Linked DNA regions of Homo sapiens: region 1 is linked to region 2. The links come from fine-mapping of genetic effects on gene expression. A gene starts in region 2. The other region holds a variant in brackets. All regions are shown on one strand. Distances are from middle to middle.

Evidence for each region. PIP is the estimated chance that this variant, and not a neighbour inherited with it, causes the effect.
Region 1: its variant is fine-mapped to the expression of DYRK4 in whole blood (TOPMed, PIP above 0.99).

The regions. Positions count from the first base shown.
Region 1 is chr12:4,602,426-4,607,809 of GRCh38, reverse strand. DYRK4 (dual specificity tyrosine phosphorylation regulated kinase 4) reads right to left here. Exons shown (of 15, transcript NM_001394779.1): 11 at 2,724-2,896; 12 at 423-483. It also overlaps the pseudogene LOC103568124. Among named protein-coding and RNA genes, the nearest start is that of DYRK4, 43 kb to the right of the region's middle. RefSeq lists an enhancer at 2,650-2,989. The variant A/G (reference allele first, on the strand shown) is at 3,267.
Region 2 is chr12:4,560,010-4,565,393 of GRCh38, reverse strand. It overlaps DYRK4 (dual specificity tyrosine phosphorylation regulated kinase 4), which reads right to left and starts at 3,186. Exons shown (of 15, transcript NM_001394779.1): 1 at 3,111-3,186. The coding sequence starts at 3,148. RAD51AP1 (RAD51 associated protein 1) reads right to left here. Exons shown (of 9, transcript NM_006479.5): 9 at 5,347-5,384. RefSeq lists a silencer at 3,057-3,351.

The sequences.
Region 1 (5,384 bases), 42 kb before region 2:
AATAATGCAGCAATGGAATTTTCCACTATTCTTGAAATGAAGCTTCTGCTCTTTGATTTCCCTGCACAGTGCATAGTGTGAGAGGGCAAGTTGCTTGGGAGAGTGGGGAGAACTTCCGGGAGAGGATGCAGTTACAATATTTTGAGGTTGCAATATTTGCTGATAGCTCTTCTGAGCAGGGACCTGGCTATTCTCCTCCTCCTGAGCATTTTTACTGTCAAGACCCTGTTCCCACTGTGACTCCCCCATCCCATCTCCAACATGCTATCCGATTCCCCTGCTCATTATCTTTTACTTCTCTGAAAGACGCTCTTAATCACAGCCCTTTGGTATGTGGCCAGGGGAAAAGAATGAAATGAGCCTTAAGGTATGGCAGGTGTCTTCAAGGCCTGTGACACCTCATGAGACACACTAGGACTTACCAAAGAATGTCTGTCTCCTGGAGGCTGTCTGAATGAAGCCGGCTGGCGGCAGACCCAGCACCTTAATAAGGATAATTCAATTGGTTCATTCTTTGTGGGAGCACAGATTCAAAGGCTGAGGGGTGGAGCGTACTTTGGCCAAGCTTTGCCTTCTACAGATAAGGATTCAAAGCATTAAGTAATAACATCTGGTCAGTAGCAGAGCAAACCCAGAGCCTGGGCCTTTTAACTCCTAATCCAGGGCTGGTTTCATATCCTAAGAATCAACACTGGCCATGTTATTCTACACAAACATCAGCACCAACTAGGGGTGGGCCACCACCCTTGATAGCAGCCAGATGTCATTGTCAAAGCAAATAAACTAGTACACATGCTGCCATGTCAGAATTAAAGAATGATATATCCCACCATGGAGCACTGGAAAGGGAGAAGAAAAGATGAAAATCACCGGATGAGCATCAGACAATTATAAGACAAAATACCTTCTTGAAAAGAAAAGTGTAGCACCTACTTGTTCATCTTTTCCTACTGCAACTTAGAGGGGCACACAGAGATAAGGAAATTACAGTGTGGGTCACCTGCCCTTGCTGCTCGGTTCCCACCCATAATCCATCCATTATCCTGCTCTTCTGTTCCTCAGACCCTTTGACACTGAGGTCAAGAGGAAGCTGAGTCAGTTCTGGGGCTGTAGGAAATTTGAAACATAGGCCCCGTTCTCTTTGGTATTGGAAGCAGGAGTGGTCTGGGGATGCTTTATAAAATCATTCATTATCAACCTTAGAAGCCATCTTCTCTGCTCCCCTCATTTTATAGTCCAGAGCTGGGAAATGCCTAGTCAAAAAGACAGAGCCAGGACTAAGACCCCAGGTTTAATGACTCGCAGGCCAGTGTTCATTCCACCACAGCTATTTTTACCTAAGTTATTTTAATATTTTATTATTAGTTTCGATCATGAAATGAAATTATCTATGTTTAGTCATTCTCAAGGCTATATGTGTTTCTCTGTAACTTTGAGACAATCTGGAAAATAGAAATTTGGCAAAGATAGATAGATACAGATACATAGATAGATAGATAGATAGATAGATAGATAGCCAGCCAGCCAGCTAGCTTGGTGTTTGCACACAAAATATCTTTGTTCACTGGGAAAATCCTAAAATGTAAAATTTAAAATTTTTAAAGTTATTTTTCTATTTTGTCTAATTTATTTCCAAAACAAGATGGCTTTCAAGTGAAAGCATAATAGATATAATTAATAATCATATCATGAGTCTTGGTCAAGCCTTGCTATTAGGAGATAGTTTTCCCAGAAAACTGTCATTTCCCATAATGAATGACTAATGCCTGAACAATACACATACTTTGAAGTCAAATAATTTCCAATTCTTTGTTTTCAACATTTTAATCGGGTTGTCAGCTGACAGGCTGGTAAACATAATTTTAGATGACAGATCACCATTTGATTCTTACACAGAACTCAAAAGGAGTCACCGAATTAGACGACATTAATTAGAACAGGCTTCCTCACTGGGTTCACATCTACACCACCAAGCAATTGGAATCACATTGATCCCGAGCCCGGGCATTCTAGCAAGAAGCATTATTCACCTATGGGTATAGGCATTAATTTGGAAAAAAAAAAAAAAAAAAAAAAAAAACCCAGCTCTATTCATTTTTCTAAGAGCTGTATGCCCAATAAGATTTCACATTTTATTTTCAATAATTATCAAAATTTGCACACCAGATATATTTTAATGGTAACTTACCAGAAAGAAATTTTTACACATGAGGCTTACGGTATCAGGAAATTTTTAAAGCTATAATGATTGATAGAAGTTTCTAAACATAAACGTATATTAAATTAGAATAAAATTCCATAGAGGAAGTAGAAAAAAGAGTAGAAACAAAAGGGAAAAAAGAACAAAGTAAAATCATGGCACAACTCTTAAGAACCTGTTCACATACTATCAGATAGATTTTAATGGGTGTCATGTCCGTCTGGTTTTGCATTCTTTTGGATATTTTTGAAAGAGCGGTGTAATTTTATTTTAAAATGTCACTATTTACAATATGATGGAAATGACATCCTCTGCAACTATTTAAATTTATGATAAAACGTTAGATGTCGACTTGACAAGTACAAGGGAGTACACAATTTCAAAACTCCTTTTAGGGAATACTCAACAACAACAACAACAACAAGGTATGCAGGCCATGGTCCTGGGCGAGTCTGGTGCAGCCCCGTGTCTGAGGGCCAAGCCCACGGTCTCCGTGGGAGCCGACCGCCAGCCCTCCGCGTACCTCCATGATGCAGGCCAGCTGCTCCACCTCATTCTCCCCGGGGAACAGGGGGTAGCCCGTGTACAACTCCGCCGTGATGCAGCCCAGGCTCCACATGTCAATGGCCACGTCGTAGGGGTGGCCCAGGATCACTTCTGGGGATCGGTAGAACCGGCTTTGGATGTACGTGTATACTGCGGAGGCAAAGTAAGAGAAACCTCGTGGGACAAACTTCTTACCCTCCAGAACGCTCTCCCCCAGGACAACTTCTCAGTTAGACTGCGCCCCCGCTGGCAGTGAAAGGGAAGTGCAGCTGGCCAGCACTTAGAACTCCCATTACACCATCACAGCATCAAATCCGCCAGCAACCTGATTATAAAGGAGGTGTGACTGTCCCTGCTTTATTGATAACGAACTCCAACGTGGGCACTGTCGTAGGAAAGTGAATCTAAGTGAGCCAAGTTTATAACAAACAAACAAAACATAAGACAAATATAAGACTAAGTTTTCAAACTGTCAGATTGATTTGGGGTAGACAGCTTCTGAGTCTTGTGACTTGGCAAG[A/G]GAGTTATCAAGTTAGAAAGGGAGCATATCAAGTTAGAAAGGGAGCATGCAAAGTCTGTATTCAATATAGCATGTGCACTTATTGTATAGAAAGAAAATTCTCAACAGGTGAGGATGAACAGACTGAAGTCGAAGAAATGGAACACGGTAGTTATTTCCGCATAACTGGGGTTTCTGGTTACCTGGGGAGGGGCAGGGATTCTGTAACCACTTTTCTGTTGTTTAAATTGGTTATTGTCAGAACATAATTCTGTGATTTAAAACAAAATAGAGATTTAATAAAAATAATGTTTATATCCTGCCTGCTTCCCAAATGTGTTTGTGGTACTTTGCAAAGTACACATGCACAGAGTATTTTAGAACATGGATTTAATGGTATTTACATTATGTTTAGTATGTGCCAGGCACGATTCCAAGTACTTTTATAGATAAGCCCTTTCAACCCTTACATTAATTCTGTGAAGCAAGTAGTATTATTGCCTCCAATTTAAAGAAGAGAAAACTGAGGCATACAGAGGTTAAAATGTCAAGGTTACTCAGCTATAAGTGACAGAGCTGGGATTTGAGAGTAGGCAGTTTAATTCTAGCATCAATATTAGATACTGCCTCACAGTTAAAATAAAGATAAAAAAGATGTCAGAAAATATGCAAAGGGGGAAATGACTGCTAGAAACCAAGGATAAAATAATTACGAATTCAGTTCCGAGCATCTTGGCAGCCAAGATAAATGAAAACTGAAAAGTTACACAGCTTTCAACATCTGAGAAGGGAAAACATACAAGTTCTTTGTGGGAAGCATTACTTTTTAGCTGGAATTTCTTATAGGATTCATACATAAAGACACAAAGGTTTTATGTCCTCAAAAATTGATCTGCCAGAGAGGCCCAGATGGAGGACACAGAGGCATGCTGTTGCCATGGCAGTGTGGTCCTGGCTGCTGCGGAGGCAGGTGCCAGGGTCTCCCTTGCCTCGATGTGAAGAGCTTAGAAAGCGGAGGAGAGGAGAACTCCCCTGGCCGTCTCTGTGACCCCAGCCGCCGCATTTTACACAGACAGGAGGGAAACAGAGGGAGAGAAGGGAAGGACGGTGTGGAGTAGAAATATTAATGGTGGGAGAGAGGAAAATGAATGAAAATAAAGAGACTGATTCAAAAGAAAGTGAAGAATACAAAGATGAATCTGAAAAGGACCTGGAGGGGTTAACTAATGAAAATGAAAAAAGTGATGCCAGCATAATAGAGATGGCTTGTGAGAAGGAAGAGAATATTAACCAAGACTTAAAAGAGAATGAAACAGTAATAGAACACAGCAAACAGCTTTCTGATCCTGACAAATCTTTGCAGGATGAGGTCTCACCAAGAAGAAATGACTTCATTTCGGTACCGAGTATTCAACCTTTGGATCCCATATCAGATTCAGATAGTGAAAACTCTTTCCAGGAGTCCAAACTAGAAAGCCAGAAAGACTTGGAGGAGGAAGAGGATGAGGAAGTAAGGTGATACATTATGGAGAAAATTGTACAAGCTAACAAGCTTCTATAGAATCAAGAACCCGTGAATGATAAAAGGGAGTGAAAATTTAAGCTCAAGGACAAATTAGTTGATCTGGAAGTTCCTCCACTAAAAGACACTAATACTTACAAAAGTTATTTTGAAAATGAAAGAAATATATTTGGGAAACTGTCACAGTGATGTATTTCCAATGATTTGGGACAAGAAAATATGCTCCTGTCACTTATTAATGGAAGCTGTGAAATAAACAAGGATAGGACAATACTGGTAGAGAGAGATGGAAAATTTGAACTTCTGAATTTACAAGACATTGAAGAGTCAGGGGTATTTGCCTCCCATTAATAATGCAAATAGTACAGAAAATGACCCTCAGCAGGTGTTACCCAGATCTTCCAACTCCTGTGTCAGTGGCATCAAGAAAGAAGATTCTGCAGCAAAGATTGATGTTGTCACTCACTCATCAACAGGAGAGCCGTTGGCTTATATCCCTCCACTTATAAGTTGGCTTATATCCCACCACTCAACCGCAAGACTTGTCCAAGCTCTGCTGCCATCTCAGATCGAAGTAAAGGGAATGGGAAATCTAATCAGGACAGTCTGCACATATC
Region 2 (5,384 bases):
CCTTTGGGGTCTAAATTTCTTTAATTCTACAAAAATACTGACAGACTGAAAAAAAAATCTCTTGTGACTTATTCCAACTTTGCCATCCCTTGGATAATTCTGTGATTATTAAAGACTATTTTGTGCCTTTCTTTTTTTATGCATGAACTCTGGCTTCCAACAGTACAACTTAACCCTTGCTCAAAGCTTTGCAAATGCTACCTTTTTATCCTCAAAATATGTGGTGAGCTATGTGGAAAAGAATTAAACTGCTTTTTATATTTCGTTTGTATCTTGTTACATGAAGGATTGAAGATAACTAATAAACTCAGCTCAGAGCTAGAGTGAATGTTCCTTTGAGAACTGAAACCAAAAGTTTGGCCATTCTCATTTCATCTTACATGCAGATCGGAGTTCTCCTTCCCCTTCCTCTCTTTCCTCGAGCGTTCAATCGTGTGTTTGCCTAAGAAACCATTTTTTCACTTGGTCAAGAGCTTTAGTGTCATTTAATTATCTTAGGTGCATATATTTTTTGTCTCATATTGATTGTTAGTCTTTTGGAGACATAGATGGTGATCCTGCATTTTTAAAAAATTCCTTTTGGGGTAAGGACAGTGACTTGTCTGTTGAAAACTTGGTACAAATTTGCTGAGGGAAGAGAAATCTAAAATAGATTAATTCATCAAAAAATTCCAGAGCATCAACTGTGTGCCAGCTACTGGGCTAAGCATGGAGGATTCAAAGATAAATAAAACAGAAGCCTTGTTTTCAAGGAGTTCGAAGACTCAAGGTTAAGGCAGATCCACAGAGGTGCCAGCCTTACTGCACTGCATAGTATTTTATATTAATATATACACATCATCTGTGTATAGAGTACTTCAATATCCAGAAAGGAAACAAGTCTTTTGAGATTTACCTGTTATGATTTTAGGATTTCTACTGCAATTGCCAGTAGCTTGATCTTTATGCCCTGGGGGCTGTCTTTGGGGCAGAAAGTATGGCAGTGCAGGGTTTGCAGGGATTCCGTTTGCATTCTGTGAACAGGTGATAATGTTTTTAATGAACTTAAGTTACATTCATTTTTTAATTGATATATAATAGATGTATATTTATATTTATATAATATATAATCAAGTCAGGGCTTCAAATTATTCTCTACTAGCTATTTTGAAATATACAATAGATTATTGTTTACTATTGTCATTCTACTGATTTATTAAACACTAGGTCTTATTTCTTCTATCTAAATGTATTTTAAGTCACACTCATTTCTGCCAGAGAATTCCTTGGACCCTCTGCATATATCCCTGAGACTCTTGAGGGTTCACTGACTCCCAGACTCTAAAGAGCTAGAAGAGGTTTTGGAGACCATGTCATCCATTTTCCCACCCTGGGGAAGAATCCTCTTTCTATGGTATTCCTGGCAATCACTCTGTCTATGCTGGAATATTTCTATGACAGAGTGCACTGTTTTTCTAGGCAACCCATTTCACACTCAACTGTTAATTTACATAGGGTTGGTACTTGATATTTCTTGGAAGAATAAACTATATTGAGCAAAATTTCCTCCACTGATCCTTGCTATCCTCTGCAGAGTACCAAGGAACAAATCTATCTCTTTTCTACTCAAGAGTTCTTGAATGTTCAAAAGTTGAGTAGAAAAAAGCTTTCTCTCCCTTGCATCTCCTCATCTCCAGGCATTCTGTGAAGTTTTTTCAAACCTCTCTTCATGTGATGGCACACCCAGGCCTGACAGAGAGAGCCTGCCTTGTGGTTGTTCCTATTTTCCAGTTCTTTGTGATCTCAAAGTAGCTACAGTTTCTAGAGTCTGGATTATGTTCTACTCATTGCTAAGTCAGGCAGCACGACCATATTCTTTGATGTGGTCATTGCATTTCTATGAATGCAGCCTCCACCAGCATTTGCTCTTTGGGGAGCCATCACAACACACTCACGATGGGCTTAGAGTCAGCTAAAACCACTAAATCCCAGCACTGGGTCCTCCACACGCTTGAGGACTATGCATTCTAGCCAAGTTGCAGGCAACAATATGTGGAGTTGGAGAGGGCAAAGTCAGGGAAGAGTGGCTGGCATATTGCTAGAGAGTCCCTTCCGATTTACCTCTGCTTTCTCCATAAGGACCAAAACAAACAAGAGAAACAACAGATTTAAGTAACAGAAACAATAAGGTAGAGTGCATGTTTGAAGAATTTCTTCGAACTCCTAGGTTTTACATACCGACCACATGTAGGTGATCAAATCGCTCAAGCAAGACAAAGGACATTTTCATTTGTTGTTTCCACGGTTTGAACTTTTCCACTAAATGGCCTCCTGCTTTTGCCGAGTCTCCACTTAAGCCTGGACAGTGAAGCTTGAATTAATATTGGTGATGCTGTCCGTTGCTTAAGACATGTCAGAGGGGTCACGGTTTTCCTAAGCTTTGAGGGGCTGCTGGACATTTCAAATGCAGCAAATGTCACAGAATAGCCTTTAAAAACCCTCAAATTGTGCATTGTTCATCTCTTTTTTAAGGAAAGATTTGCTAATATTGGGAATTTCCTGAGTGGCAGCTCTGGGTGTGTGATCTACACACACCTTCGCGCGCTTTTGTGTCAGGGGCTGGGCCCTGGTTGAGCACAGAGGTGCCCGGGCATATGGGCTGGGTGGGAACATGAGTAATGCCTGCCAGAGCCTCATCCACGCGAGGCGTGTGGTCGTGGACCCACTTACGACTACCAAGAGGACATGCAGTAAAGAAGAGAAAGAAAGGGAGGAAGAAAGTCTGGCGTCCCAGTGAGGGCTGGAAGCACAGTTCCAGGATAGGTCTGCTGAGTTCCTCAGAACCCCTCGCTCCCTGTCCTGCACTCAGCTGGAGTCGCCGATGCGACAGCATCTTAACATGGAAGTATACTGACGTCGGATTCCGGGGATGCAGCTGCTGCAAAAACTACAACTGTATTTTCTTGTCCGCGCACCACAGCCCGCCTCTCTCTGACCCACATTCCCCGGTCAGCTCTTGCATTCTGCACGCTTTTCATTCTCCCCCCACGACCCCGTCGACCAGAAGCTTCGTCGCCTGCCTCGTACTCGCGCCTGACTGCTCGTGAAGTACGAGCCTCCGCGGCCCTTACTTTGTTCCGGTGCGGATAGGCGGCGGGAGGAGCTGCATGAGGCCGGCGCTGACCGCCCGCCGCTGCGGGAGGCTGTGAGAGCCCGGCAGAGGGCAAGGGACGGCCACGCCCTCCTCCCGTCGCTATAGAAACGGCTCCCGCCCTTTTTATGACTCCAGAGCTGGAAGGGCTTTCTCAGGCTGTGGTCCCAAACCACCTTGCAGAGTAGCAGCCTGAAGAACATACTCCTCGTCCTCCTACTCGCATTCTCTTGCCCCAGTTCTTTAAAGTATAGGGCAAGAATTGAACAAAATCCCAGCATAAAGAACTTAAAGTTGGTTGCCCAGACCGGACACATGAAATTATCCCTACTCTCTCCCCTTCTTCAAGCGAAGCATGTGGTTATCAGAATTACATCACAGAAGTTCTGGCCGGGCGCGGTGGTTTTACACCTGCAATCCCAGCACTTTGGGAGGCCTAGGCAGACCACTTGAGGTCTGGAGTTCGAGACCAAACTGCTCAAAGTAGTGAGACCCCCCCGCCCCTGTCTCTATTTAGACATTTTTTTCTGTAATCCCAGCACTTTGAGAGGCCAAGGCGGGTGGATCACGAGGCCAAGAGATCAAGACCATCCTGGCCAACATGGTGAAACCCCGTCTCTACTAAAAATACAAAAATAAGCGGGGCGTGGTGGTGCGTGCCTGTAGTCCCAGCTACTTGGGAGGCTGAGGCAGGAGAATCGCTGGAACCCGGGAGGCGGAGGTTGCAGTGAGCCGAGATCGCGCCACTGCACTCCAGCCTGGCGACAGAACGAGACTGCATCTCAAAAAAAAAAAAAAAAAAGAAAAAAAGAAAAAGAAAAAGAAAAAAAGTAAGTACATAGCAAAAGTTCTGGGTAAAATCCATATATCAGCTGAACACTTTTTGAGTGCTTACTCTGCACCAGATTGTAGAAAGCATGAAAAGGGAAATTTGTAATTGAGTGGCAGTAGGTTGACCTGGAGGTGCACAGTCTGGTCCAGGCAGAAAAGACATTCAAATGAAGCTTTCTGAAAGAGCTGAGTTGAATCTGAGTCTTCAAGGACAGGCAGTAGTTGTCTACGTAAAGGAGGCAAGTCCTATTCTGAAGGCCAGAGCCATAGAAAAGCTTGGTACCATTGTGCCAGCACCCAGTTTAGTGGGGCAGGGATCAAAGTTGCACGTGGGCAGAGACAAGGTTGAAGCAGCAGGAAAGGGGGAGTCAGACACCAAGTAGGCTATGAACTCGACCAGGGTAAGGTGTGTATGTGCAGACTGCAGAGGGGTGTTCATGCTGACTTTATTTTATAAAACCCTCTGTGGCAATAACAATGGAAGTAGGCCCGAGTAGGTTAAGAATCAAGGCAAGGATGCCTGTTAGAAATAGTGAGTGATGATGTTTCAGAGTAAGGGAGAGCACATGGAAGAGTAGTTTTGAGAAATTTAGGAAATGGAGTAAGACTTGGTGACTGGATGTGAAAGTCGAGAGAAGACTCAATCCCAGGATGACACCTTTGGCACCTGCAGTGATGGTGGTGCCATTCATTTACCAACAGAAAACACAGGAGAGATGTCAGGGGTAGGAGGAGACGTTGAATTTAACAACTGATCTGCTACATCAAATTGTCAGTGGACCATCCACAGGTTCTGTTGTCAAGAGCATGGTATAGGGTACAGACCCTGACTTGGCAGTCACTGTCACATAAGTGACCCCTGGAGTTTGCATAGAACATGAAACTGGTAAGACAAGTAGGTAAAGGTGACACAACAGATTAGAAAGCTGCAAAATAATGAAGAGTAGGCATGGAGATGGGAAGAAATGACAAAGAAATGTGTCACATGAGCCAAGGAAATCAAATGTTTTCATCAGAGTATAATGAATAGGGTGTATAAGATTAGGTGAGAAAATTGTACACTGGGTTTGGCAACATAAAGGTATCAGTGCTTTCAGCCAGGCTGGTTTTAACATACTTTGAGGTAATTTTCAAATCCCCTGATAAACTATAAAGAACACGGCAAAAACAGGTTATTGAGCTGGTGCCAGATGATTAATCAATTATATCAGTACCTAATATACAGTAGGCTCTTATGTTTATTGTTGATCTACACCAAATAGAGTACCTCAGTGCTATGTAACTGGAAAATATGTTTTTAAAAAGGGGACAGGTGGGGCAGGTTAGGGGGCTGGTATATGACACTATAAAAATATACGTTAGATAAAAGAAGTGTACAACAGCAATAGACAAATGCTCACTTTAATCACAATTCTAAATTAAT